Regions from separate parts of the Homo sapiens genome. Here regions 1, 2, 3 and 4 are each linked to region 5. Evidence: fine-mapped expression QTL. A gene starts in region 5. Each other region holds a variant in brackets. All regions are shown on one strand. Distances are between the middles of the regions. Region 1 has its middle 21 kb from the start of EIF4B. Region 2 overlaps TNS2-AS1 (TNS2 antisense RNA 1). Region 3 overlaps EIF4B (eukaryotic translation initiation factor 4B). Region 4 has its middle 3.8 kb from the start of SPRYD3. Region 5 holds the start of EIF4B (eukaryotic translation initiation factor 4B).

Region 1 (5,944 bases), 21 kb after region 5:
TTTTGTTTTTGAGACGGAGTCTCACTCTGTCGCCCAGGCTGGAGTGCAGTGGCTGGTGCAATCTCGACTCACTGCAACCTCCACTTCCCAGGTTCAAGCAATTCTCCTGCCTCAGCCCTCCGGAGTAGCTGGGACTACAGGGACCCACCACCACACCTGGCTCATTTTTATATTTTTAGACGGGGTTTCACCAGGTTTGCCAGGCTACTCTCGAACTCCTGACCTCAGGTGATCTCAGGTGATCCACTCACCTCGGCCTCCAAAAGTGCTGGGATTACAGGCGTGAGCCACCGCGCCCGGCCAACAACAAACATCTCTTTCTTTCTTTTTTTTTTTCTGAGACACAGTTTCGCTCTTGTCACCCAGGCTGGAGTGCAATGGCATGATCTCAGCTCACTGCAACCTCCGCTTCCTGGGTTCAAGTAATTCTCCTGCCTCAGTCTCCCAAGTAGCTGGGATTACAGGCATGTACCACCATGCTTAGCTAATTTTTGTATTTTTGTATTTTTTTTTGATGGAGTCTCGCTCTGTTGCCCAGGCCGGAGTGCAGTGGCACGATCTTGGCTCACTGCAACCTCCGCCTCCTGGGTTCAAGCGATTCTCCTGCCTCAGCCTCCCGGGTAGCTGGGACTACAGGCACCCGCCACCACACCTGGCTAATTTTTGTAGTTTTAGTAGAGACGGGGTTTCACCATGTTGGCCAGGCTGGTCTCGAACTCCTGACCTCATGATCTGCCCACCATGGCCTCCCAAAGTGCTGGGATTACAGGCGTGAGCCACTGCGCCCAACCTACAAACATTTCTTTCTTTCTTTTTTTCTTTCCCTTTTTCTTTCCTTCCTTCCTCCCTTTCTTTCTTCTCTTTCTTTTTTTTTTTTTTTTTTTTTTTCCTGAGATGGAGTCTCACTCTGTCACCCAGACTGGAGTGTAGGGGCACGATCTCGGCTCACTACAACCTCCGCCTCCCGGGTTCAAGCAACTCTCCTGCTTCAGCCTCCCAAGTAGCTGGGATTACAGGCATCTGCCACCATGCCCAGCTAATTTTTTTTTTTTTTTTTAATTTGAGACAGAGTCTTGCTCTGTCGCCCAGGCTAGAGTGCAGTGGTGCAATCTTGGCTCACTGCACCCTCTGCCTGCTGGGTTCAAGCGATTCTCCTGCCTCAGCCTCCTGAGTAAGTGGGGTTACAGCTGTGCATCTCCACGCCCAGCTAATTTTTGTATTTTTAGTAGAGATGGGGTTTCACCATGTTGGCCAGGCTGGTCTTGAACTCCTGACCTCAGGTGATCCACCCGCCTCAGCCTCCCAAAATGCTGGGATTATAGGCATGAGCCACTGCACCTGGCCTACCATCAGTTTTTTTTTTTTTTAAACTTACAGAGCTATAAGAGTCTAGTCAAAAGCAGTCAAAAATTATATTGAGCACATTGATTATATTCTTGGTATATCCAAAAATAAGAAGTTGAAGGGGCTGGGTGCAGTGGCTCATGCCTGTAATCCTAGTACTTTGGGAGGCCAAGGTGAGCAGATCACCTGAGGTCAGGAGTTCGAGACCAGCCTGGCCAACATGGTGAAACCCTGTCTCTACTAAAAATACAAAAATTAGCCAGGCATGGTGATGGGCGCCTGTAATCCCAGCTACTTGGGAGGCTGAGGCAGGAGAATCTCTTGAACCTGGGAGGTGGAGGTTGCAGTGAGCCTAGACCACGCCATTGCACTGCAGCCTGGGTAACAAGAGTAAAACTCCGTCTGAAAAAGAAAAAAGAAAAAAAAAAAAGAAGTTGAAGGACAATTGAGTCTTTGAAACAAACTATTTTTATAAAATGAGAAAGAAACAACAAAAAAACACAAAGACACAGACCACTACAAAATCAAATAACACTGAAAGTTCTCTATACAAAGCCCAGCATTCCACTAAAAAGGTACCCAGTAATCTTTAGCTCATTTTAAGATCTTTTAAAATTTTTCCAGCAAAGACTTGGTCTTAGCATTCTTTTGTATTTTGCCATCTAGCACAATATTTAGGTATTAGGTATGTTAGGTATTCAATAAGTACAGGCTGCTTGATTGGAGAATTATTGAATGATGGATTAGAAAGTGTGTGATGGATTGAAAAGCATGACCAAAATATTTTGCAGTGCCTTCATCAAAAGGTAGAGTCTATTTCCTACTTTTTGAATTTGGCATTGCCTTGTGACTTGCTTTGGCTAACAAATGTGTCAGAAGTGACAATATGTGACTTCTGGAGCCTAGACTTTGGAAGATTTTGTGACTTCCACTTTTACTCTCTTGGAACCTGCTGATACCAGGCAAGGAACCCAGGCTATTCTGCTGGAGAGCCACAGGCAGGAGAAGTGAGGTGCTTTGGCTGAGAATCCCAGCTAACTGCCAGTTATGTGAGTGAGGCCATCATAGACCATCCTGATCCATATGACTGTAGCCACTTAAGCAACTCAAAGTGAGATGAACAGAACTGCTCAGCTGAGCCCAGCTAAAATTGCAGAGTTGTGAGCTAATTATTGTTTTAAGCCTCTAAGTCTTGGAGTGGTTTTTTATGTAGTAATAGCTAAATTGACATAGTGCTGTCTGTGCAGTCACAGAATGTCAGCTGGAGGCAGAAGACAAGTGTTTCTTCTTTGGAGAGATACACTGTCTACCACGATTGAATTTTCTGCCTCGGCTGTCCTGTGTCCCAAATGGGTTGGGAGCCCTGTGCTGCTCCCTGAAAGAAGTGTCATTACTTGAGTATGTGGCTTGGCCCCAAACCTTCTAGGTGGTTGTGCAGCCAATTTGATGGGCTTATTACCTGTACTGGGCTTGAAGCTTGTAGAGAAATGGAAGTCAACCCTCTTCCAAAGAAGAGAGGCAGAAGGCCAGTCACGGTGGTTCACACCTGTAATCCCAGCACTTTGGGAGGCCGAGGCGGGTGGATTACCTGAGGTCAGGAGTTCGAGACCAGCCTGGCCAACATGGTGAAACCCTGTCTATACTAAAAATATAAAATTAGCCGGGCATGGTGGTGCATGCCTGTAATCCCAGCTACTTGGGAGGCTGAGGCAGGGAATTGCTTGAACCTGGGAGGCGAGGTTGCAGTAAGCTGAGATCGTACCATTGCACTCCAGCTTGGGCAACAAGAGCGAAACCCCGATACACACACAAAAAAGAAGAGAGGCAGAAGGCCGGGCACAGTGGTTCACACCTGTAGTCCCAGTGCTTTTGGAGGCCAAGGCAGGAGTATGGTTTGAACTCAGGAATTTGAGACCAGCCATAGTGAGATCCCAATCTCTACAGAAACCAACCAACGAACAAAAACAAATTAGCTAGGCATGGTGGCATGTGCCTGTGGTCCCGGTGCTTTGGGAGGCCAAGGGGGAGGATCCCTTGAGCCCAGGAGTTTGAGACCAGCCTGGGAAATATGGTGAGATTCCATGTCTACAAAAAATAAAAAATTAGTTTGGTGTGGTGGTGCACACCTGTAGTCTCAGCTACTCAGGAGGCTGAGGTGGGAGGATCATTTGGCCCTGGGATGTCAAGT[G/A]TGCAGTGAGTGGTGACTGTGCCACTGCACTACAGCAAGGGTGACAGAGCGAGACCCTGTCTAAAAAAAGAAAGAAAGGCACTGGGCGCGGTGGCTCACGCCTGTAATCCCAGCACTTTGGGAGACTGAGGCGGGTGGATCACGAGGTCAGGAGATTGAGACCACCCTGGCTAACACGGTAAAACCCCCGTCTCTACTAAAAATACAAAAAATAGCTGGGTGTGGTGGCACGTGCCTACAGTCCCAGCTACTTGGGAGGCTGAGGCAGGAGAATCACTTGAACCCAGGAGGTGGAGGTTGCAGTGAGCTGAGGTCGCGCCACTGCACTCCACCCTGGGTGACAGAGCAAGACTCTGTCTCAAAAAAAAAAAAAAAAAAAAAAGAAGAAAGGCAGTGAACAAGCAACACTTTTCAAGGAACTGAACAAGGACGCATGTGCTCAAGTTAAAGTATCTGTAAAGTATCTGAACATGGACACGTGTGCTCCAAGGAAAGTACAAAGTTAACCCTATACTAAATATCTGTCCTCACCCCTCCTTGAATCTGTATGACATCTTTACTCTCCAATCATCTTTCTACTTGGCTTGTTTAAATCTCAATATAGCCTAGTGAGAAAGAAAGGCAAGTGAGGAAATCAAGAGATTTGCTCAACATCACACAGCAGCTTAATCATGGTGCAGATCCCAGGCCTCCTGCTGTAGCACCCAGTGGCCCAGTGCTGACTACTGCCCCTAGCAGGTTCCATGGGCAACTCCTGCCCTCTGAGGACTCTCAGTCCAGGATGCATACCCAGGATGTATGTGTGAAGCAGGATGATGTTAGGGTGGCAATGCAGTGTCAAGGACAAGATCTGATATCATCTCTGTTAGCTCCATCAGGCCCGTGATCTCAGGACAGCCACTCAACCTCTCTAAGCCTCAGTTTCCTCATTTGTAAAATTAGGTTAAAATGATATCCACCTATACGTTGAAAAACTGTAAATAATGGTTGCCTCTGGAGTGGGTTGTGGGGCTGGGTGCTGGGTAGGAGGAAGACTTTCTTTTCATTGTATATCTTTATACTGCTCAATTTTATAATCATAGGGCAGATATTATTAATTCACTGATAATACTAATTAAAATACAAAAACTGCTGGTGCGATGGCTCATGCCTGTATTCCCAGCACTTTGGGGGGCCAAGGCGGGCAGAATACCTGAGGTTGGGAGTTCAAGACCAGCCTGCTCAACATGGTGAAACCCCGTCTCTACTAAAAATACAAAATTAGCCAGGCGTGGTGGCACATGCCTGTAATCCCAGCTACTCCAGAGGCTGAGGCAGGAGAATCTCCTGAACCCTGGAGGTGGAGGTTGTGGTGACCCAAGATTGTGCCATTGCACTCCAGCCGGGGCAACAAGAGTGAAACTCTGTCTCAAAAAAAAAAAAACCAAAAAAACAAAAACAAACAAACAAACAAAAAAAACTAGCCAGGCATGGTGGCATGTACCTGTAATCCCAGCTACTCAGGAGGCTGAGGCAGGAGAATCACTTGAACTGGGGAGGCAGAGGTTACAGTGAGCCAAGATTTTGCCACTGCACTCCAGCCTGGGTGACAGAGGGAGACTCTGCCTCAAAAAATAAAATAAAATAAAATAGATAAAATATAAAATAAAATAAAATTCGTTACGGACTAAACATCCGTTCTTGCCTGACTCAGGGTGGAATCCTCCTACCCTCCTACCTTTGTTATGCTACTGCCTTCCTTACAAACCCCTGTTAAAGATCAAGTGGAATAATATTTTTAAGGGTCTCAAATTCAAATACTGTCAGGGTTCAGATAGGCAAGTGTGCGAAGTGGTGTAGGTCACTGGGAGTGGTGCAGACTATGGAAGATTGAGGAGTGCATGCCCTGGCTAGAGGTGTTCACATGCAATTTTTATCCAGGGAGTGAACTGACAGTTTGTGATACTCAACAACAAATAAATAATTCAAACTTGGATCTGGTCTGACTTCAAAGCTTTTTCTACTATGTCATTTGGTCTTGTCCGAAACCCTAGTTCCCTTTTTCTTTTTTTTGAGACAGAGTCTCACTCTGTTGCCCAGGCCGGAGTGCAGTGGTGCGATCTCAACTCACTGCAACCTCCGCCTCCTGGGTTCAAGCGATTCTCCTGCCTCGTCTCCTGAGTAGCTGGGACTATAGGCGTGCGCCACTATGCCTGGCAAATTTTTGTATTTTTAGTAGAGATGGGGTTTCACTGTGTTGGCCAGGCTGGTCTCGAACTCCTGACTTTGTGATCCGCCCACCTTGGCCTCCCAAAGTACTGGGATTACAGGCCTGAGCCACTGTACCCAGCCTCTCTTTTTTTTTTTTCCTTGAGATGGAGTCTCACTCTATCACCCAGGCTGGAGTGCAATGGTGCAATCTGGGCTCACTGC
Region 2 (5,944 bases), 38 kb before region 5:
GAGGAGGGGTAAGGCCCAGGGAAGGAGCGAGGGAGGGCGGCGGCTCTGGGGGTGTTCCCAGAAGGGTCTGGAGGATGGGGGCAGACTGGAGGGGGCCGCAGAGCGGGGCTGGCGAGTCGAATCAGCCTCATCTGTGCCCGCTTACGGCCTCTGTCCCACATGTGAAGCAGGAAAGGAAAACGTTCGCCCGCACCCTGCCAGGCCGGGGCCCGAGCGCCGCTGCCAGCTGCTGCCGGGTCCCGGGCCTGCGTGTGTGGCACGGCGTGCGGCCCCGTGCGCCCCGGGTGCTGGAAGGCGTGGCGGCCTGATCGAGTAGGGCCGCGGCCGCGCCCCGCCCCCTAGTCACTGTCCCGGCCTCCCGCTGCTCCCAGCTCTCCGCGGCCAGCCAGAGCCCCCGGCCCCAGCCCTGGGCCGCGCCCCGCGCCCCGCGCCCTCTCGACCTCCGGCGGCCCCGCGCCCCCTGGCGCCCGCCCCTGGCACTGCCCGCGCGGCCGTGACGCAGAGACCGCCGCCCGCCCAGCGCGGCGCGGCCACTCACCTGCGGGGGGCGCCCGGCCGGGCGGGGGCGCGGCGGGGCGGGGCAGCAGCAGGGGGAGCCGCCGGGCCAGCCCATCCCGCCCGTGCCCGCGCCGAGCGGACGCGGAGGAGGAGGCGGTGGCAGTGGCGGGAGCGGGCGGCCGGGCTCGGCTGGGCTCCCTCCCGCCCCCGCCGCGCCCCGCGCCCGCGCCCGCGCCCGTGGCAGCCCGCTCCTCCTCCTCCTCCCTCCCGGCTCCAATCCCCACGTTCCGCCAGCTCCCCACCCCTCGGCCTCCTCTCCTCCCCACCTTCTCCCGCGAACCCACACTCACAAAGAGCCGAGGGGAGAGAGGGTGCGCAGACGGCCAGCCGGGCCGCGCCAGGGACATACTGGAGACAGGAAGTGGCTGAGAGGGGGAGAGAGTTGGAGAGAGACGGCCGCGGAGGACACGGGGACGGGAAAGTCTGAGAGACGGGGAGAGCCTGACCCGGCGGGACACAGGCAGAAAGAAACACGCGAGCCAGACAGACGCAGAAGAAACGGTGGGCGTAGGTCTAGAAGGGACTAGGAACAAGGGGACAGGGAACTGCCGCGCAGCGTCAGCCTCTTACCCTCCCCACAGGAGTGTGCCTGGGCTTGGGCCTGACCTGAGAGGACCACCCGTGGCTTAGCCTGGTGGTGCTAGCGTCCCCTACCCAGGCGGGCGCCTGAATCAGGTGAAGACACCTGGTGTTACTTTTGGCCCAAGTCATTGGACACCCTTCCCTGGTCCTCTGCCCCACAGGAGACTTCTCCTGGGCTAGTATTCTCAAAGGATTCACAGCTGGGGACCTTTCCGTCAGGCTCAAGCCCCCATCTCCACCCGCAAGCAGCTCCAGCCATCCCATCCACTGCCCTGCTTTATTCATTGAGACGGGAGTCTGTCTCTGTCGCCCAGGCTGGAGTGCAGTGGCGCCATCTCGGCTCACTGCAACCTCTGCCTCCCAGGCTCAAGCGATCCTCCCACCTCAGCCTCCCGAGTAGCTGGGACTACAAGATGGGCGCCGCCACGCCCAGCTAATTTTTTGTAGAGATGGGTTTTCGCCATGTTGCCCAGGCTGGTCTCCAATTCTTGAGCTCAAGCGATTTCCCCTTCTTGGCCTCCCAAAGTGCTGGGATTACAGACGTGAGCCACCGTGCCCGGCCCATTGCCCTATTTTAAAGAGCTGGACCGTCATTCCCAGTTCGCAGGAGACCTCTGAGAAGGTCTTCCTTACATTTAACTTGAGTCCAGCCTTTCCAAATGGAGATGGAAGTTCTTTCTATGGTCTGACCTCATTCCCTTCTTTTGCAGTGCCTGGTACTGGATAGGAACTTCATGGAATGGAGCTAATGGGCCGTAGGGCAGGTTTGAGTCGTGCCACCCTGGAGCAGAAGGTGGAGGGTAGGGATAAGGTAGGGGACATCTTCCTAGAAGTTCTGAACCTGTTGCCATTCCTACATTCCCCCAACGTCCTTTAGCAGTGAGCACTTCCTGAAACTTTCTCCCTCCTTCACCCTCCCTGCTGGATTTTCCATGATGAAAAGGGGCGGGGGGAAGGAAGGTTGGAATTCTGAGAACCCAGTGCCCAGGGCTCAATGCCCAGTGCTTGCCCAAAGTAGCCAGTACCACTGGCTCTAAGGCCTTCTTTCCCTCCCCGTCTCATCTCAACTGGGTCCCTTGTCTTTGGCAAAGGCTGAGAAGTCTGGTTCTCATTTCCAGGGGGTGGAGCACCTGATTCCAATCTTGCCACAGGGAAGAAGAGTCTGTGAAGAAGTGCGTGATGACTGTGTGTCCCCCCCCACCCAGAAATTGGCATTTGGGAGGGGTGGATATGGTTGGGACTGGGGAGCCTTGATCTTACTGCTCTTGGTTGAGTTGGTGTCCAATAGACAGTTTCAGAGGTTAGAGCAGTGGGAGTCACTGGGGACTGGGGACAGGAGAGGTGGGGGTGGGGGAAGCCAGGCGGGAATGAGTAGGGAGGCACTGGGAGGAGGGGAGAGGCAAGAGTTAGGGGAATACCGAGGAAAGTGGCAGGGATTGGAGGCTCCTGGAGAAAGGGCAAGGCTGAAGGTTGTCCCATGTATTTTGGCCAGATTTGATTATGTAATCGAGAATCATGAGATAATT[AAGTG/G]TGTTCATGTCTCTGGAGCCTTCAACCAGCTCTTTTAACATCTTGCTCTTCCCAGCATTCCTTAGGGTCTTTGGCTGGGCTCTGGGATGGATGCCATGGGAGTACCTTTACTTAAGCTCTAAAGTTACCAATGGAGAGACTGGGACTCAAAGAGGAACTTGATTGGACCCCAGAGAGGTGAGGGGTAAGGGCTAGAACCTCACACATGCTGGTTTTGCTGCTGCCTGGCAGGCCCATGGGAAGAACTTTAGAGGTTCCAAGGAATTGGAAAAGGGTCACAAGATGGGTGGCCAAACTCCCAGCTCAGGCTTGATTCCTACTCTCAATGTGGGGATAGTGGAGAAGGGGGCTGCAGGAAGGGCTGAGAAAAGCTGAGAATGAGAAGTTATACAGGAGGTAGCTTGGTGGGAGTGAAACAAAAATGAGTGGTTCATGGGCCAGCCAGGCATCCTGATTTCCAGCTCACAGCAGCAGGAGCTTCAGAGAGGAAGAAGGAGAGGAGGAGAAAGCCAGGTTGATGTTAGTAAAGGTCAAACAATTTCAGGAGCACCTCTGACCTCCCTCCACACAGGTTTTCTTACCTTGACTATGCAGAGGGTGGTCCATCTTGGCACTGAAGATGGAACCCCCTCTTCCATGGTCTGGGGTGACCCCATGCCTGTAACTGAATGTGCTCAGATCCTTGGGGTGCGGGGACTGTAGGGGGAGGATTTGAAGGTGTGGGACTGTCCTGGCTGGAGACCACTGGGTCAGGAGAACTCCAGTAGAGGGTTTGGGTGCTGGGAACCAGGAAGAGTGGGGGAAGGGGCAGAGCCAACTCCAGAGGCGGATCTCCTGGCTGAGGACAGAGGGTGTATTGTCCAAGCTGGAGGTTGCTGTAGCTGGGCGGGGAGCAGCTCAGCTCGTCTCTTCCAAATTTCTTTTGGGGGAGGGTAAGGGAAGGCAAGCCCCCCTTTACTTGTGGCCCTGGGGGCTACAATGGTTGCTGAGAAACAAGGCTTATTTGACAAATAATGCTTCCCAGGAGCAGATGTGTAGCTCTCTCACTTCCTGAGAAACCAGATGCTGTGAGCTCGCTTAGCACTTGAGGCGACGCCCTCAGCACGAACTGGGACCCTAGTGCCTTGGGATCCGGAGTATAGTGCTTGATTCTATTGAGAAGAAACGAGGCTAATGTGGACTGGGAGACACACGGGACCTAATCAGCCTCAAGTTAGCCCTTTTGAAGTAGGTTGCTGCACCTGCACTTTCCCCCTACTCGTCCACTAGTTCAAGATTTACAAGACGTTGACAATGAGGGCTGACCAGTCCTGGGTCCACTCCTGCAGCTGGGGGGCTTCTCGGTGGACCCACACTTTTTTTTTGAGACAGGGTCTTGCTCTGTTGCCCAGGCTGGAGTGTAGTGGTGTGATCACAGCTCACTGCAGCCTTGACCTCCTGGGTTCAAGTGATCCTTCCTCCCAAGTAGCTGCAACTATGGGCATACACCACCATACCTGGATAATTTTTCTATTTTTTTGTAGAGACAGGGTCTTGCCATGTTGCCCTGACTAGTCTCAAACTTCTAGGCTCAAGCGATTCTCCTGCCTCATCCTCCCAAAGTGCTGGGATTACAGGTGTGAGCAACCATTGAGACAAGAGTCTCGCTCTGTCACCCAGGCCGGAGTGCAGTGGTGCGATCCCGGTCCACTGCAACCTCCACTTCCCGGGTTCAAGCGATTCTTCTGCCTCAGCCTCCTGAGTAGCTGGGACTACAGGTGTACACCACCATGCCTAGCTAATTTTTGTATTTTTAGTAGAGACGGGGTTTCACCCTATTAGCCAGGCTGGTCTAGAACTCCTGACCACATGATGTGCCCGCCTTGGCCTCCCAAAGTGCTGGGATTACAGCTGTGAGCCATGGCACCTGGCCACACACGTCTTTTTAAATTTAAATGAGGATGTGGCCATATTACAGCCCAGGTTTTCTCTGACTTTAGAGTACCTTTTGGGACATAGGGCCTTCCTCTCTACCCTTTCTGTACACAGCCATCATAAACCTCTTTCAACAAGCCTTTCCTATTTTTATGTTCCTTCTTTCCATCATTTACCTAGACCTCATTATTGCACAGCTGAGAGTGGCTTGAAACAAAGGCTTGGAGAATGTGAGTGAAACTGATTCCTGTGGTGGAGAGGCAGTGAAAAAGCATTACCTTGTAGGTTTCCAGGCAGCCTGGACAATAGGGGCACCTAAACCCACATTGAAAAGCCTTCACATCATCACAGCTGAGTCTCATAGCCTTCAACTTTACCAGTTTTGGAGAACAGAGATAAATGCACTGGCCAGAAACTAGAAGAGCAGCTGCTCCAATTGGCTGGGAAATCATTTAACTGGCTCCTCATCTTGGCTCTTAAATCCCCAAAATTGTTGACTGAGGTTTCCCGGGCTCCTTTCTATGCTCCACCTCCTTGTGACCTTAAGGATTCTCTGCCACTGTCCTAACCCCTTTCCCGCCTTGCAACAATGACCAGTCTGTCCCTAGCTGTTTGGAAAATTCCCACTGAGTCTGTGAGCCTCTGTTCTGGTAACCTCGACCAGCCTGTCACCAGTATCTCTGGTCCACCAGTGCGGTGTAACTCAAGGGAGCAGCATCTCTCCAGATTGCTGAAGTGAGGGAGGGAGATTATGAGGGAACTGCCCCAAGGACACAAGGATTCATTCTTAGAGTTCCCACATCTTGATTAAAATAAACAGTACAGGAAATAGACTGCAGGCACATCCAGGTGATTAAAAAATTTAACACCAGGCAAAAAAAAAAAAAAAAAAAAAAAAAAAAGCCAGAGGGGAGCTAGGATGCAAACTCTATTATTGGGCCTCAATAAACACTGAAATAGATTCCCTTGTAACCCCACCCTCTAATCTTGGACAATATGGTATCCAATACTGAATGAAAACTTCAGAGATGGTAGGAGGAGGAGGAGCAGGTGGTCAATGACTACAGTAAAAACCACTGGGAGTGCAGAGTATTTGTCAAAGAACTTCAGCATTACAATGAACTTTAAAGATCAGATTTATTTGGAGAAAACAAAAAACCCACAACCCAAAGGATGGGATTTTACATCAAGACATCTCCCAGGTAATAAGTCTACAGATTACAAATCATTTTCATAGAAGATATTTTTGTACAAATTTTACATGTATTCAGGAGCGGGACATTAATCAATCCCTGTTTCTATTTTAATAGGGGGGACAAGGTAGGGGAGAGGGAAAAACAGTTTTGGATATAACTATTTG
Region 3 (5,944 bases), 23 kb before region 5:
CGGAGGTTGCAGTGAGCTGAGAACACACCACTGCACTCCAAACTGGGCAACAAGTGCCAAACTCCATCTCAAAAAAAAAAAAAAACAAAAAAACCCAAGTTCAATTACTCTTCTACCACATCCATGATGTAGTACAAGACCACAGGAAAGACTAAAAATGGTAAACATTTAAGTAATAAATTAATAATCTATCAAGACTTCTTTTATATGGGAAGAAATTTTTGACCATCATTAAACTACTGGATGAAAGTATCTTGCTCCGAAATCTGCATGTTAAGAACTAATACAATATGATAGGGAAGATTCTAGTTCTTTATTTTTTTTGAGACAGTCTCGCTCTGTCACCCAGGCTGGAGGGCAGTGGTGTGATCTCAACTCACTGCAACCTCTGCCTCCCTGATTTTCCTGCCTCAGCTTCCTCAGTAGCTGGGAGTATAGGCACGTGGCACCATGCCCAACTAATTTTTGTATTTTTAGTAGAGATGGGGCTTCACCATGTTGGCCAGGCTGGTCTTGAACTCCCGACCTCAAGTGATCCGCTTGCCTTGGCTTCCCAAAGTGCTGTTACAGATGTGAGCCACCACGCCCAGCCAGGAAGACTCTAGATCTTATACCCTTGTCTCTGTGTATAATATAAATTTGGCAGGTGGTTCATGGGGCAAAGCATGTAACACTGAACAAATAAACTCTTAAGGCAGGCAGTCTGATTTCTTCCTCAATTCAAGTTGTCAGAACACTTTCAAGAGAAACCTAAGTGTTTCAAGGAAGTTAAATTTCTAAAAATGATTGTTTGTCCTAAATATTTTGGATATACAAAAGATACAGAGAATATAAAGAAAGCCTATGTATACAATCACCTGGCTTAAGTAATGTAACCTTAACAAAGAGGTAAAACCTCCTGATGACATGACCAGCTGTACTCTGTCCTCTAAATAACCACTAGATGGTGACTTCATCATGCCCACACTTGATTTTATACTTTTACTACATATGCACATAGTACCTGTAGATAGAGGGTACTGTTTAACAAGATCTAAATTTTCTACGAGGGCTTTAAGCCGACAGTTTATATATGTTCCTAAACATATTTTAAATCTGTGTTATAGCCCCGTCACTTTTGTAAGATAAAATAGGGGCTCAGAAAAAGTAGCTCATTTAAGATATTAATAAAAGAACGCAGCCGGGCACAGTGGCTCACGCCTGTAATCCCAGCACTTTGGTAGGCCGAGGGCAAGTGGATCACTTGAACTTGGAAGTTTAAAACCAGCCTGGGCAATGTGGAGAAACCCCATCTTTAGAAAAAATATCAAAATTAGCCAGGCATATGGCACGCACCTCTAGTCCCAGCTACTGGGGAGGATGAGGAAGGAGGATCACTTGAGCTCAGAAGGCTGAGGCTACAGTTAACCATGATTATGTCACAGCAATTCTAGCCTGGGCGACAGAGTGAGATCCTGTCTCAAGAAGAAAAAAGTAAAGGCTGGGCAAACAGTGAAGGCCCGTGTATGTCAGAGGTATAGAGAAAGGGCTATGTTCCAGGCCATGGGGAAACTAGACAGGTCTAAACAGGAGAATAAGGTAATTAGATCTTATGCCAGAAAGACAACTGACAACTGGGGCCAATGTGAAGAACGGAGCAAGAAAGGGAACTCTGTTAGGAGGCAATGGCCAGTAACGTGGGTGCAGCAATGAGGCCTCAACGAAGGTAGCAGCAGCAACTAGAGACAAGAGGGCAAATCTTAGAGGGAATGGGGGGGTAAGAGCAAGAAGAGAAATAAAAAATTAGGTATGCAGCTCTTGGTGGGGAGGTAAGGGACAGTGTGAGAGAGGAAAAGGTCAGAAGTCAAGGAGAACATGAGGCCCACATCTGAGCCTCCACTTTTCTAACTTGTAATTTTACCTATACCACACAGAAGTCTTAGAATTAAACAATACTTGTACAAGCCCTCAGCTCACTGATGGAACAGAGTAAATGGTTAATAAATGTTAGCTATTATTTTTAGGCTTCTTGCTTGAGGAAATCGCTTTTAAGAACGTAGTTTTTTCACTGGGCGCAGTGGCCCACGCCTGTAATCCCAGCACTTTGGGAGGCCGAGGCGGGCGAATCACAAGGTCAAGAGATCCAGACCATCCTGGCCAACATGGTGCAACCCCGTCTCTACTAAAAATACAAAAATTAGCCGGGCGTGGTGGCAAGCCCAGCTACTTGGGAAGCTGAGGCAGGAGAATCACTTGAACCTGGGAGGCAGAGGTTGCAGTGAGCCGAGATCGCGCCATTGCACTCTAGCCTGGGCAACTAGAGAGAGACTCCGTCTCAAAAAAAAAAAAAAAAAAAAAAAAAGAATATAATTTTTTAAAACCTATTTCCTATTTTATTATTTTTTAGATGGGGTCTCACTATGTTGCCCAAGCTGAAATGAGACCTTGGCTAACTGCAGCCTTGACCTCCCAGGCTCAAGCGACCCTCCTACCTCAGTCTCCTAAGACACGGGGACTACAGGCACATGCTACCACGCTCAGCTAACTTTTATATTTTTTGCAGAGATGGGGTCTCACTATGTTGCCCAAGCTGAAATGAGACCTTGGCTAACTGCAGCCTTGACCTCCCAGGCTCAAGCGACCCTCCTACCTCAGTCTCCTAAGACACGGGGACTACAGGCACATGCTACCACGCTCAGCTAACTTTTGTATTTTTTGCAGAGATGGGGTCTCACTATGTTGCCAGGGCTTGTCTTGAACTCCTGGACTCAAGTGATCCTCCTGCCTTGGCCTCTCAAAGTGCTGGAATCACAAATGTGAGCCACCATGGCTGGCCTAAGTTTTTTTTAAAAAAAACAAACATTGAATTATTATTATTATTTTGAGGAAGGAGTAAAGACTTCACCATTTTCTGAGGGAGAAGGAAAGACCTCACTGCAATAGAATTGCCATATGGCTCTGATGAATTCTGTCATCTCACTGTGTTTTATTAGTTGTCCAGATCGATTTTCCTTTCTTGGGGAATCACAGGAGATGATGGATATAAAGCCATTG[C/G]CACAAAGTTTAGGACTAACACAAAGATGTTAAAGATAGGAAAAATTTGGCCGGGCACGGTGGCTCATGCCTGTAATCCCAACACTTTGGGAGGCCAAGGCAGGCGGATCACGAGGTCAAGAGATTGAGACCAGCCTGGCCAACATGGTGAAACCCTGTCTCTACTAAAACTACAAAAATTAGCTGGGCATGGTGGCGTGCACCTGTAGTCCCAGCTACTCGGGAGGCTGAGGCAAGAGAATTGCTTGAACCTAGGACGCAAAGGTTGCAGTGAGCTGAGATCATGCCACTGCACTCCAGCCTGGCAACAAACAGAGCAAGACTCCGTCTCAAAAAAAAAAAAATAAAATAAAAAAAGGATAGAAAAAATTCTGGGCCAGATACCATAACCTTTTATATGACATCACTGAAGTTAGAACACAAATGGTGGCCATTTATTAGTATTTTATAACAGGTTAGATTTGTAACACAGTTTACATTTTATATCTTATAGTATTAGGGGCATAATTTTAGAATAGGTGCACCAAAATCTCACCTTTATAATTAATGAACATCAATTATTGTGGTATAATGGTACAGAAAGCAATCCTTTTTTTTTTTTGAGACAGTCTCACTGTCGCCCAGGCTGGAGTGCAGTGGTGCGATCTCAGCTCGCTGCAACCTCTGCCTCTGGGCTCAAGCAATTCTCCTGCCTCAGCCACCCGAGTAGCTGGGATGATAGGTATGTGCCACTACGGCCACCTAATTTTTGTATTTTTAGTACAGACGGGGTTTCACCATGTTGGCTAGGCTGGTCTCGAACTCTTGACCTCAAATGATCTGCCCACCTTGGCCTTCCAAAGTGCTGAGATTACAGGTGTGAGCCACTGCACCTGGCCTTAATGCTTCGTTTTTAACCCCATAGTACCAATTATGGGCTACAGGACTATGTTTAATCTGAATTTCATTTCCCTTACTTGGAAAATGGAGCTAAAACCATCTGTTTTAAGTGTAATTTACTGAGATCACAACATAACAGTATCTGGCAACTTTTTTTTCCATTTCTACTGTTTATTCAATAAATTTTAACTGAAAAATCTATCTGTGAAGGCATATGAGATGAAAACAATTCGACTGCTGTGTTTCCACTGATGTCATCCTTAGCCAATGCTTTTTTTTTTTTTTTGAGATGGGGAGTCTCACTCTGTCACCCAGGCTGGAGTGCAGCGGCGCCATCTCCACTCACTGCAAGCTCTGCCTCCCGGGTTCCCACCATTCTTCTCTCTCAGCCTCCCTAGTAGCTGGGACTACAGGTGTCTGCCACCACACCTGGTAGAGACGGGGTTTCACCATTAGCCAGGATGGTCTCGATCTCCTGACCTTGTGATCTGCCCACACCTGGCCAGCCAATGCTCTTTCTACTATGCTTTGCTGCTTCCTGTACAATGTGCAAATTATATTTGTGCCCAACTCAGTAGTTCGTAACACAATCACAAATTTTCCGTAGTTTTCCCAGTTTCTGCTCCATGAAGTACGTAAAAAGAAAACTATTACCTCTATCATCACGCCTATAATCATCCCGAGAGTAATCATCTCTGGAGCTCCACGACCGATCATCCCGTCTGTCATATCGGTCTTCATAGCGGTCCCCGCCTCCTCTGTAGTCATCATCCCTGCGATACCCACTGCCAAATGCTCTTCTGCCACTGCCTATCCGGGAATCATAGCCTGTAAATATATCCCAAATTATAATCATCACAGCGGAGGGGGAAAAAAAAAAGGCAAAGTTACTGAAAGAGCAATTCGACATGTTTTACAATTACCTCTATCATAGTCTCTGCTGCCTCGGTCATCATAGCGATCCCGGCCACCATATCGATCCATATCCCGGCGTGGGCCATCCCGATACCCATCCCGATACCCATCCCGATACCGGTCTGAATCATAACGATCTCGATACTCTAGAGGAAACAGACAAGTAACACCATCCCCTTTTCTCTGACACCATTAATAGAAACACGGTAAGCTATCAGTCCAATTTGGAAGAATCTGTTTATTTAAATTTTCTATCTGATTTCTTCAAAAAGTTTCCCTGGTGAAATAATTGTTGCTCAGCTAATAATTTGGGAAGGGTGGGTTGGAAATTAAAAAATCCCTAAATATTCCATAATGAATTTCCAGAAGGAGAAGAGGTTTACATGCAAAAACAAAAAACAAAACAAAGCACAAGACACTAAAACAATACAGTTGGGAATCTCCCATGTTTGATCCCAAAGACCACTTATTTTTTAATTAAAAAAATTTTTTTAGCTGGTCACGGTGGCTCATGCCTGTAATCCCAGCAGCACTTTGGGAGCCCGAGGTGGGCAGATCACGAGTTCAAGAGATCGAGACCATCCTGGCCAACATGGTGAAACCCCGTCTCTACTAAGGATACAAAAATTAGCTGGGCGTGGTGACGCACACCTGCAGTCCCAGCTACTTGGGAGGATGAGACAAGAGAATGGTGTGAACCCGGGAGGCGGAGGTTGCGCTGAGATCATGCCCCCGCACTCCAGCCTGGCGAGAGAGTGAGACTATGTCTCAAAAAAAAAAAAAAAAAAAATTTTTTTTTTTTTTGAGAGACAGTCTCTCTCTGCTGCCCAGGCTGGTCTTGGACTCCCGGGCTTAAGCAATCCTCCAGCCTTGGTCTCCCAAAGTGCTGGGATTATAGGCCTGAGCCGTAACACCCAGCCTCAAAGATCACTTTAAGAGGCAAACAAAATGAGAAACAATATATGCAACATATGACTAACAGGACATAATTTTCTATTGAATTTTAGGAGCTTAAATCAATTTCTGCACTGCTGATCATAATTTTAAATGGTACAAATACACTTTGGGAGGTTGAGGTTGGTGGATTGCCTGAGCTCAGGGGTTTGAGACCAGCCTG
Region 4 (5,944 bases), 76 kb before region 5:
GTCTCGAACTCCTGACCTTGTGATCTGCTCACCTTGGCCTCTCAAAGTGCTGGGATTACAGGCGTGAGCCACTGTGCCCGGCTGCTTATTTATGTTTGTACAATTCTCATGATGTTCCATTACCATCTCCACTTTGTAGATAAGAAGACGTATCCAAATAAGTTAAATATCTTGCCAAAGGCCACACAGCTAGATGGCAGAATCCACTAGATTCCAAGTTCAAAACTCTTTTCACTGAAACACGAAAACTTTCCTTTTTCTTTTTTCTTCAACTTCCAAGTTCAGAGGTACACGTGCAAGATGTGCAGGTTTGTTACATAGGTAAACAAGTGTGCCATGGTGGTTTGCGGCACGGAGCATCCCATCATCTAGGTATTATGCCCAGCATCCATTAGCTATTTTTCCTGATGCTCTCCCTCCCCTCAACCCCACAAAAAATTTCATAATGTAAAAAGACATCAAGGGTGCGGATAAGTTAAATACAGACTTGTTTGCTAAATTCTCTAAATACTCAATCTGTGTGCAATTTCTAGGGCAAGAGAAAGATTGCTTTAAGGCAAATAAAAAGAATGATTGCCTTATGTTGGGGATGTGGTAGGGAATAAAAACAAGAAATATATTATTATAACAAACAGCACAAGCTGAAAAAGAAAAAAGTTAGAAACAAGTTAATAAAATAATAGATAAAAGATTTCTGGCAAGTCATGAAAAGACTAGATTTCCTCTCTTTCCTCTTCCTGAGCTATGAGAATACCCCAAGCCTAAGTCTGGGTTCTTTCCAAAAACAACCTGGGGCTGTTTGAGGGCTGGGTCTTATCCTTTTGGGCAGGCCAGCTATGCACTCCTAGAGCCTATCTGTGGCACAGCTGTTGAAGAAGTATCTTGGGCTCTGAACAAAATATCAAATATAGTAAATATTTTTTTCCTTTCCTAAAATTTTGAGCTGAGGGCCTATAATTTAATATTAAACAGCCAGAGTACATTTAGGAAGATAGCAATTAAATTTCATACATCAAAATCAAGTATATGGAGAGTCAATATATAGAAATCAATTGTACTTTTATATACTAGCAATAATTTTTATATACTGGAAATTGAAATTTTAAAATAACATTAACCAAATTGTAAAAAATATGAAATACTTAAGGATAAACCTGACAAATATCTACACTCTAAAAACCATGAAATATTGCTGAGACAAATTTAAAAAGATGTAAATAAATGGGGAGATATACCATGTTCATGGATCAGAAGATATATTGTTAAAGATATATTGTTAAAATGTCTATTCTTCCAAAATTGAGCAATAGATTCAATGTAATACCAATTAAAATCCCCAGGGGCTTTTTTTTTTTTTTTTGAGACGAAGTTTAGCTCTTGTTGCCCAGGCTGGAGGTCAATGGCTTGATCTCGGCTCACTGCAACCTCCACTTCCCAGGTTCAAGTGATTCTCCTGCCTCAGCCTCCTGAGTAGCTGGGATTACAGGCATAATGCACCACCATGCCCAGCTAATTTAGTATTTTTAGTAGAGGTGGGGTTTCTCCATGTTGGTCAGGCTGGTCTCGAACTCCCAACCTCAGGTGATCTGCCTGTCTCAGCCTCCCAAAGTGCTGGGATTACAGGTGTGAGCCACTGTGCCAGGCCGCCAGGGGCTTTTTCAATAGAAATTGGCAAGCTGATTATCTCACATGGAAATGCAAAACAGAAAGTTGGAGGACTTATATTACCTGATTTCAAGACTTATTATAAAGCTATAGTAACAAATACATACAGATAGAGGAGCCAGGCACTATGGCTCACACCTGTAATCCCAACAGTTGGTGGGGGCTAAGGCAGGTGGATCACTGAGCCCAGGAGTTTAAGATCAGGTCTGAACAACATGGTGAAACCCTGTCTCTGCAAAAAATATAAAAATTAGCCAGCTGTGGTGGTGTCCACCTGTAGTCCTAGCTACTCAGGAGGCTGAGATGAGAGGACTGCTTGAGCCCAGGAGGTGGAGGTTGCAGTGAGCTGAGATCGCAACACTACACTCCAGTCTGGGCAATAGAATGAGACCCTAAATTATATAATTATAGACTTAAATGCAAACCTAACACATAGAACTTTTTTTTGTTGTTTGTTTTTTGAGAGGGAGTCTTGCTCTGTCACCCACGCTGAAGTACAATGTCACGATCTCGGCTCACTGCAACCTCCGCCTCCCAGGTTCAAGCGATTCTCCTGTCTCAGCCTCCCTAATAGCTGGGATCACAGGTGTGTGCCATCACACCTGGCTAATTTTTTATATTTTAGTAGAGACAGGGTTTCACCATGTTGGTCAGGCTGGTCTCAAACCTGAGCTCAAGCAATCCACCCACCTCTGCCTCCCAAAGTGCTAGGATTACAGGCGTGAGCCACCATGCCCAGCCCGTTTTTTTTTTTTTTTAGAGGGAATTTCACTCTTGTTGCCCAGGCTGGAGTGCAATGGTGCAATCTCGGCTCACCGCAACCTCAGCCCCCTTGGTTCAAGCGATTCTCCTGCCTCAGCCTCCCGAGTAGCTGGGATTACAGGCATGCGCCACCACGCCTGGATAATTTTGTATTTTTAGTAGAGATGGGGTTTCTCCATATTGGTCAGGTTGGTGTCGAACTCCCGACCT[T/C]GACCTCAGGTGATCTGCCCACCTCGGCCTCCCAAAGTACTGGGATTACAGTTGTGAGCCACTGCACCCGGCAGAACTTTTTTTTTTTTTTGAGGTAGGGTCTCACTCTGTTGTCCAGGCTGGAGTGCAGTGGCAGCACAACCATGGCTCACTGCAACCTCTGCCTCCTGGGCTCAAGTGATCCTGCCATCTTAGCCTCCCAAGAAGCTAGGATTACAAGTGTGTGCCAACAGACTGGCTAATTTTTAAATTTTCTGTAGAGACCAGGTCTCACTGTATTGCCAGGGCTGGTGTTGAACCCCTGGGTTTGAGCAATTCTCCCTGCCTTGGCCTCCCAAAGCACTGGAATTACAGGTGTGAGCCACCATGCCCAGCCTGAACAACTCCGTTAAAAACATGAGAAGACAAGCTGCAGACTAGAAGAAAATATTTGTAAAGCACATATCTGATAAAGAATTTGAATCTAGAATATATAAAGACTTTCAAAATGCAATAAGAAACAATTTTTTGAAATGAGCAAGTGATTTAATCAGATACTTCACCAGAGAAGATATATGGATGACAAATAAGCATATGAAAAGATGCTCAACCTCGTTAGTCATTAGGGAAATGGAAATCAAAAGTGAAATGAGATACCACTTCACACTAAGTGGCTATAATCAAAAAGAGATAATAACAAGTGTTGTTGAGTATGTAGACAAATTGGAACCCTCATACACTGTGATACCTACCTATTAGGAAGGCTGAAAGTAAAAAGAATAACCATACCAAGTGATGGCAAGGATGTGGAACAACTAGAACACTCACACACTGCTGATAGGAATGTAAAATGATACAACTACTTCTGAAAACAGTGTGATGCTTTTTAACCAATTAAGAACCGTACATCTACCATGTGACTGAGCCATTCACTCCTAGATATTTACTTAAGAGAAAATGACACTTTGGGAGGCCAAGGTGGGCAGATCACGTGAGGTCAGGAGTTCTGGACCAGCCTGGCCAATACGGTGAAACCCCATCTCTACTAAAAATACAAAAAAAAAAAAATTAGCCAGGCGTGGTGGCACATGCCTGTAGTCCCAGCTACTTGAGAGGCTGAGGCACAAGAATCACTTGAACCTGGATGGTGGAGGTTGCAGTGAGCCAAGATCATGCCACTGCCCTCTAGCCTGGGTGACAGGGTGAGACTCCATCTCAATAAAAAGAAAAAGAAGATGAAATATGTCCATACAAAGACTTGTACATGAATATTCATCATAGCTTTATTTGTAATAGCCAAAAACTGAAAAAATCCAAATGTCCATCAACAAGTGAATAAATAAATTGTAATATATTCCAACAATAGCATACTATTCAGCAATAAAAAGGAACAATCGAGAGGCCAAGGTGGGAGGATCACTTGAGGCCAGGAGTTTGAAGTTGCAATAAGCCTTGATCACGCCATTGCTCTCCAGCCTGGGCAACAGAGCAAGACCCTGCCCCAAATAAATAAATAAATAAAAACTATTAACACAAACAACAATATGGATGAATCTCTCAAGGTAATTACGCTGAACAAAAGAAGCCAGACACATCCCTCCTCAAAGAGGATTTACTGTATGATTCCACTTACATAAAATTCTAGGAAATGCTAACTAAGATAGTGACAAAAAGGCAGATTAGTGGGCTGGGCGCGGTGGCTCATGCTTGTAATCCCAGCACTTTGGGAGGCTGAGGCAGGAGTTCAAGACCAGCCTGGCCAACATAGTGAAACTCCGTCTCTACTAAAAATACAAAAATTAGCCAGGCGTGGTGGCGGGCATCTATAATCCCAGCTACTTGGGAAACTGAGGCAGGAGAATCCCTTCAACCCGGGAGGTGGAGGTTGTAGTGAGCCAAGATTGCCCCATTGCTCTCCAGCCTGGGCGACAGAGTGAGACTCTGTCTCAAAAAAAAAAGTTTCAAAAAGCAGATTAGTGGTTCCTAGGGATGAAAGAGTGAGAGAGAGGGATTATAAAGGAGCATGAGGAAATTTTTAGGGATGATGATGATATGGTCACTATCTTGGGTGTGGTGACATTTTCATTTTCATAGGTATATAAGTAGCTTATCAAATTGTATACCTTGGCTAGGTGCAGTGGCTCATACCTGTAATCCTCGAACTTTGGGAGGCTGAGGTGGGAGGGTTGCTTGAGCTCAGGAGTTTGAGACTAGCCTGGGCAACACAGTGAGACTTCGTCTCTAATTAAAAAAAGAAAGGAATAAATTGTACACCTTAAATATATATGGTTTATTGTATGTCGGTTATATGGCAATAAAGTTGTTTATTCAAATACATGTAGACACCAAACACAAATTACCAACTGGGTCCTGAGCATGCCAATGGATGGAGAATTCGCCAAAAAGGTGAGCCCCACATCTGGAACTTAAAGGTGAGGAAATCCCGAGTGGAATCACCAACCATCAGTAACAGTTTGGAAATGCCTTCTTCTGCCATTTCTCTCCATGTCTGACCCTAGCCACCTAGCTAGTTAGTTTCTGGAATGAGCCCTGGTCTGGGATGAACATGACTCTGGCAGCCTCCTAAGATTGTCCCTCTCTGGCTGCCTTTGGGAAGAGCTGAGCTCAGTGTTGAGGTATTTTCATAACACAAGAAGAGGAGCGGAGGAGAAGCAATGAGGGAATCAAAAGGAGGTGGAGATGAGTTGGAAGGGTAGCTATTCAGAACTGAGTCATCCAGGGGCTGGAAGGGAGCTAAAAGAACACATACTTCAATAATTCTTGTTTAGGGATGAGAACACCAAGACCTTGACCTTTTAGTCACACAGAATTGGGGCTCTAATCCGGGTTTCTCTGTTTCCCATCTCATCTATTCCTATCACCCATTGCCGTTATGCCGAGTGGGCACTATTCACGGTATGCGAGCTGATGGCTTTCCTGGCACTCAACACGTTAGAGTACCTAGTGTGATAAGAATAGAATAGTCTGGGGTCTGAAGGAGCTCACAGTCTAGCAGAGACGGGTCTACACACACAAGTAACTCCAATAACGAAAGCAAGACGGTAATAAGTGTTATAAATGGCGGGGGGCGGTGGCTCACGCCTGTAATCCCAACACTTTGGGAGGCCGAGGTGGGCGGATCAAGAGGTCAGGAGATCGAGACCATCCTGGCTAACACGGTGAAACCCCGTCTCTACCAAAAATACAAAAAAAATTAGCTTGGCGTGGTGGCGGGCGCCTGTAGTCCCAGCTACTTGGGAGGCTGAGGCAGGAGAATGGCGTGAACCCAGGAGGCAGAGCTTGCAGTGAGCCGAGATCGCGCCACTGC
Region 5 (5,944 bases):
GGAATCTGTAAGCAATATATAATGGCACCCCTTAAAACCATTTCACTGTGAGAGTCAGCAGTGTATGAAAACAACCACTGCAGAGCATCTTCTCCCTATAAAAATAATCAAATAAGATGTCACACAGGACTGCATTTTGAAGCATTATGGAAATGAAAGGCCTGTGCATGAGCTTACATATGTTATTTCCAATTTTAAAGTTTGTTTTTGTTTTTTTTTTTTGAGACGGAGTCTCGCTCTGTCGCCCAGGCCGGAGGGCAGTGGTGCAATCTCAATTCACTGCAACCTCTGCCTCCTGGATTACAGGCGTGAGCCACCACGCCCAGCCCAAAACCCCGCTAATTTTTGTATTTTTAGTGGAGACTGGGTTTCACCATGTTGGCCAGGCTGGTCTCGAACTCCTGTTCTCAGGTGTTTCACCCACCTCAGCTTCCCAAAGTGCTGGGATTACAGGCATGAGCCACTGCACCCTGCCCAATTTGAAAGCATTTTAAATGTTAACCTGTATCAAACGCATTTGATTCCCTCTAGGTAAGGGGACAGCAGATAAATAATGACCACTTTCCAGATAAAGAAACTGAGATTCAAGCGGTAACTGGCTTATTACTGGCAAGTCTACTAAAGTAGTCACAATGAAAATTTAAGAAAAATGAAAAACTTCGTATTTTTAAGATTTTTTTTTGAAATGGAGTCTTGCTCTTTTGCCCAGGCTGGAGTGCAATGGCACAATCTCGGTTCACTGCAATCTCCCCCTCCCAGATTGAAGCGATTCTCCTGCCTCAGCCTCCGGAGTAGCTGGGATTACAAGCACGCGACACCACGCCCAGCTAATTTTTGTATTTTTAGTAGAGACAGAGTTTCACCATGTTGGTCAGGTTGGTCTCCAACTCCTGACCTAGTGATCCGCCCGCCTCGACCTCCCGAAGTGCTGGGATTACAGGCGTGAGCCACCGCGCCCGGCCTTTAAGAATTCTTTTTAAGAAGCAAAGCAAGGAATTAAGTGTACTGGCTCAATGTATCAAGTTTCTAGGAATTCAAACTATCCTCATTCTATAGTTAGTTCTGAGACCTACCTTAGTTCTTGAAGGTCAATAATGGATCACACTGGAAACTGGTATTGCTGCAAAGAATTTTTTGGTCTCATTTAACAGTAAAAGAGGCGTATGAAGTTGTTTTATGTATTTTCACACAGAACACATAACATCCATTTCCCACATCAGGGAATACTGGTTACTTCACAAAGCCAGTGTGACTGGAAAGAGGAGCGGGGAAACAATCCGATAAACCCCAGATTCCTCAAGAACAGACTGAAAGATGTGACTTGTGCTCAGATACCAGTACCAGCTAAAAAGATTTACTGAAGTGAATTAAAGGAGATGAGGGTTTTCAAGGGGGTAGAGTAAATATGGAAGAACAAGAGAATGGGACGTCAGAGTAAATCCCTTTTATCAGTCTGGATTTCCCTCAACTCGGTAAAACGAAGGACATGAATTGCTGTCCTATGTTCCGCCTCTAAAAATTACACAAAAGTTAAGAAAACACAGATTTTCTTCACTAAATTACGATACTAAACTGTTAAGGTGGCAAATCCAGACCAAGTAAGTACTTTAAGCAATGGTTAGTTTAAAATATATTTAGGACTTTTACTAGCCCACTGGAGAAAAAAATATGAACATTTTTGTAAACTTCAGATGCTTTCGGGCAGCGTCCTAAACTGATGATGACACCTTGATACTTTTAAGTTGCTAAGGAGTCTCAAAGATTATGACCTTGCTCTGCCAGCTGAGAGCAGTGTGGCCTTAAATAATATTCCTTAGCTGAGAAATACCACTAGCTCTCTGCAGTACCTCAGGATGGAAGGAGACAACATGCACAAAAGTGCTTGGTCAACTGTCAAGCGTTACACCAATGAAAGATGTTCAAATGCACCTCAAATTTCTCAACATTTTCCAAAGCCAACCAAAACCCTTAGCTTCTTTGTAATAGAGACGATGAATTACTAGGTAAGAAATGAGCACCCAGAGATAGAAGTTCAAATAATGTTTTGAAGAATGCAAGGTCATGCCAGAGAAAACAAACTATATTCCTCAAACTAAAATCAATGCTACAAGATGTTGGGTCATCACTGCTTTTATAAGCCCATTAGAAATGTAATTAGACTTGCAAGGCACTGATACTCCCCTCCAAGGTTGTCTAAAGAAGTAAGCAACTCCAGCCATTAGTAAGCACTATTTTAAAAGTACCTGCTGGTAGTTGCACAGTTACCTTAAAAAAAAAAAAAAAAAAAAAAAAAAAAGGCTGAAATCTACCATTGGAGCTATCCAAATTCAACCAACATGGAAGCGCCGGAAGCGAAACCTGATCCTGGCATATAGCTGCGCTGAGTAAAAAATGCCTCCAATTGAGTATGAGAAAAAAGCCTAGAAGGAAATCTAGGTGCACACCGGTGCTTCTCCAACACGTGGGCGCACCTAACTGGATTCCCCACCCCCATCTAACGCCAATAGCACCAACCTCCAAGGCTAACACACACACCCTTAGAAGAATACAGGCACAGGGCCCACACTCTAGAAAGGGAAGAGACAACCTAAAAGGACATAAGTGCGCAACACAGGCGCGTTAAAAAGCTTCCCATCTGGGTTCTAGCGCACGCATTGAAGGCGCGCCCGTCTCTACTACCCTCGTGTCTCCTACCGCGCACGCGCACCGCTGCCTTCCCCCGCCCCTCCACCAACTCGCGCTCGCGTTCCAACTGCTCCCCCCCACCACACTTACTCCCCTACCCCCCACTCCGGTCCGCTACAGCCTCGCGCCTTGGAGACGTAGTCTAATGTGCACTCGTCCGCGCAGCAACCGCCTCCTTCCTTCCTCCACGCCTTCACGCGGGCACGGTGATTCACGTCTACGAAAAGGCCTCGCACCACCCGCACACCTTTCTGCGCCTCCTTCCCCAATTCAAGCCAGAGTCTACCATTACTGCCTATTCCAATCTCGCGCAGAAAGGGTGAAAAGAGTGTGAGGGGGAGGGGAAGGTGTCCTTCCCCTCCCCCCCAAACATCCAGAGGCAGTAACCTAACAGGGCCACGCCGCCAGCCTGCCGCAGCCCTCAATTCAGAAAGGAACCAGTGCCAGCAATTCCCCGACTTCAGGAAATCAGTGGATCACGCTCGGAGGGGGGTTTCAGAGCCCAGTCCTTGGCCGCGCTCGGCTGCTCGCTCACCTGAGGCCGCCATGTTGGGAGAGGGAAAGAGAACGCAAAAGACCCGGATGAGGCAATCACGTGATTATAGCGGGCGCGTCGAGCTAGGAGACGCGAAGCTGGGAGGGGGCGGGGAGGTGAGGACGGAGACAGGAGGCGGGGCGGCGCTGCTCTAGGTTCGTAAAGCTGCGCGGCGAGGTGGCACGCCGTCCGACGGGAAGACATGCGCGACATGTGGCCAAAGGGGCGGGGCCTGGGTTGTCGCGAAACCCCTCACGCTTTACGTAGGGCTACACGCGAGCGCGGGGCTGGAGCTGAGTCCTGGCCGGCCTCCTGACGCACAGACTTCCTGCCGGAAGAGTGGCGGGAAGGGCGGGGCTTCGCTGCTGCTTCTGCTTACTCTGCACGGAGCCGGTGATGGGTGTGGCGAAATGGATGTGCTGAAAGGGAAGATTCTGAGTTTAATGTACTTTTTTGAGACGGAGTTTCGCTCCTGTTGTCCGGGCTGGAGTGCAATGGCGTGCGCGACCTCGGCTCATTGCAACCCCCGCCTCTCGGGTTCAGGCGATTCACCTGCCTCAGCCTCTGGAGTAGCTGGGATTACAGGCGCCCACCACCATTCGCTGCTAGTTTTTTGTATTTTTAGTAGAAACGGGATATTTCACCATATTGGCCATGCTGGTCTTGAACTCCTGGTCTCAGGCTATCCACCCGCCTCGGCCTCCCAAAGTGCTGGATTATAGGCGTGAGCCACCGCGCCCGGCCTAGTTTTTAAAAGCCACATCAGAAATCACTGATTTTATTTTTATTTATTTTTATTTTTTGAGACGGGGTCTCGCCCTGTCTCCCAAGCTGGAGTGCAGTGGCGCGATCTCGGCTCACTGCAGCCTCAACCTCCGGGGCTCAAGCAGTTCTTCCACCTCAGCCTCCTGAGTAGCTGGGACCACAGGCGAGTGCCTCCAGGACCAGCTAATTAAAAAAAAGTCTTTGTGTGGAGACAGAGTGGCGGGCTTGGGGGGGGCGGTGTGTCTCCCTGTGTCGCCTGGGCTGGTCTCGAACTCCTGGACTCAAGCATTCCTCCCTCCGAGGCCTCCCACAGTGCCGGGATTACAGGCATCAACCACTGTTTGTTTTCAAATTACTTTTTGTAAAGGCAAAACAAATCGAACGTCTTGTGTAAGAATGGTTTTAATGAGGCATATTTAGACGGAATAAGAAGGTAACAAATGCTGAACACTTAATTGTCATGGGCTTTTACCTCATTTAATGGTCCAATTTGCTGACTAGGTTTAGTCCAACTTAGGCCTTTAGGATTTCTGAGACTAGGGCTATTCATGCTTCCCCTAGCTGATGTTCCATTTCATTCATTAAATGAAAATTTTTGTTTCCCACCGTGTGCCAGGCACAGACACTTGCGGGTACAACATGGAATAGAACTGTCCCAAAAGAGGTTATATTCTAGTGGGGGAAGGACAGATAATAAGCAACTAATAAAATATTACAACAAGTATTCTGTGAGTAATTAAAACAAGGTGGTGTAATAAGTTATTAGGTGCAACTTTAGATTGCCTGTCAGAGTAGACCTCTGAGGAAGTGACATTCAGACAGAGGTCTAAATTACAAGCTGCCATCCCTGGGAATGTCTTCTGAAGAGGTTTAGGAGAAGACAGGATGCGCAGTTGGGTTTGCTGCAATATGGTGAGGGCAGGGGAGGGAGGAGTGGTACAGGATGAATCTTGAGAGAGAGGGGCTGGATCATGTGAGGCTGATCATGTGAGGGGATTGGGAAAGTGTGGAATGATTTAAGGCAGAGAAATGTCATGAGTTGAAATAAAATTTTAAAAAGGATTACTTAGTATCCTGATGTGAGTGGTGGTTACATGGGTGTATATCTAGAATTCGTATACTTAAGATTTGTGAATACTTAAGATTTGTGTACTTTATGTAAGTCACGCGTTAATTAGAAAAAAAGAGATTACTCAGGCTACTGAATGGAGAGTGCAATTGTCAGAGGTGTTTGAACCGGAGCAACTCCTTGAATAGGGCTGGGTAAAATAAGTCTGAGACCTACTGGGCTGCATTCCCAGAATGTTAGGCATTCTTAATCACAGGATGAGACAGGAGGTCAACACAAGTTATAGGTCACAAAGACCTTGCTCATAAAACAGCATGCAGTAAAGAAGCCAGCCAAATCCCATCAAAACCAAGATGGCGACTAAATTGACCTCTCCTCACTGCTTATTATATGCTAAATATAATTCGTTAGCATGGTAAAAGATACTCCCACCAGGACATGACAGTTTACAGATGCCATGGCAATGTGAGGAAGGGGGAGGAACCCTCAGTTCGGGAATCGCCCTCCTCTTTCCAGGGAAAACATGAATAATCCACCCCGTGTTTCCCATATAATCAAGAAATAACGGTAAGTATTCTTAGTCAAGCAGCCCATGCTGCTGCTCTCTGCCTATGGAGTAGCCATTCTTTTATTCCTTTTTCTTTTCTTTTTTTTTTTTTTTTTTGATACGGAGTCTCGCTCTGGCGCCCAGGCTAGAGTGCAGTGGCGCGATCTCGGCTCACTGCAAGCTCCGCCTCCCGGATTCACGCCATTCTCCTGCCTCAGCCTCCCGAATAGCTGGGACTACAGGCGCCTGCCACCGCGCCCGGCTAATTTTTTTTGTATTTTTAGTAGAGACGGGGTTTTACCGTGTTAGCCAGGATGGTCTCGATCTCCTGACCTCGTGATCC

Evidence for each region. PIP is the estimated chance that this variant, and not a neighbour inherited with it, causes the effect.
Region 1: its variant is fine-mapped to the expression of EIF4B in whole blood (TOPMed, PIP above 0.99).
Region 2: its variant is fine-mapped to the expression of EIF4B in whole blood (TOPMed, PIP 0.99).
Region 3: its variant is fine-mapped to the expression of EIF4B in whole blood (INTERVAL, PIP 0.93).
Region 4: its variant is fine-mapped to the expression of EIF4B in whole blood (INTERVAL, PIP 0.94).

What each region holds. Positions count from the first base shown.
Region 1 is chr12:52,982,631-52,988,574 of GRCh38, reverse strand. No RefSeq gene overlaps it. Among named protein-coding and RNA genes, the nearest start is that of EIF4B, 21 kb to the left of the region's middle. The variant G/A (reference allele first, on the strand shown) is at 3,533.
Region 2 is chr12:53,041,968-53,047,911 of GRCh38, reverse strand. It overlaps TNS2-AS1 (TNS2 antisense RNA 1), which reads left to right. Exons shown (of 4, transcript NR_033854.1): 3 at 1,851-1,951; 4 at 2,259-4,723. It overlaps EIF4B (eukaryotic translation initiation factor 4B), which reads right to left. Exons shown (of 15, transcript NM_001417.7): 15 at 5,697-5,944. It also overlaps a transcript of TNS2 not described here. Among named protein-coding and RNA genes, the nearest start is that of TNS2, 5.1 kb to the left of the region's middle. RefSeq lists enhancers at 1-531, 1,229-1,278, 1,359-1,548 and silencers at 1-578, 649-718. The variant AAGTG/G (reference allele first, on the strand shown) is at 2,667.
Region 3 is chr12:53,026,811-53,032,754 of GRCh38, reverse strand. It overlaps EIF4B (eukaryotic translation initiation factor 4B), which reads right to left. Exons shown (of 15, transcript NM_001417.7): 7 at 4,836-4,973; 8 at 4,567-4,740. Among named protein-coding and RNA genes, the nearest start is that of TNS2, 20 kb to the left of the region's middle. The variant C/G (reference allele first, on the strand shown) is at 3,034.
Region 4 is chr12:53,080,260-53,086,203 of GRCh38, reverse strand. No RefSeq gene overlaps it. Among named protein-coding and RNA genes, the nearest start is that of SPRYD3, 3.8 kb to the right of the region's middle. The variant T/C (reference allele first, on the strand shown) is at 2,638.
Region 5 is chr12:53,003,773-53,009,716 of GRCh38, reverse strand. It overlaps EIF4B (eukaryotic translation initiation factor 4B), which reads right to left and starts at 3,261. Exons shown (of 15, transcript NM_001417.7): 1 at 3,221-3,261. The coding sequence starts at 3,233. RefSeq lists enhancers at 2,403-3,146, 3,147-3,890.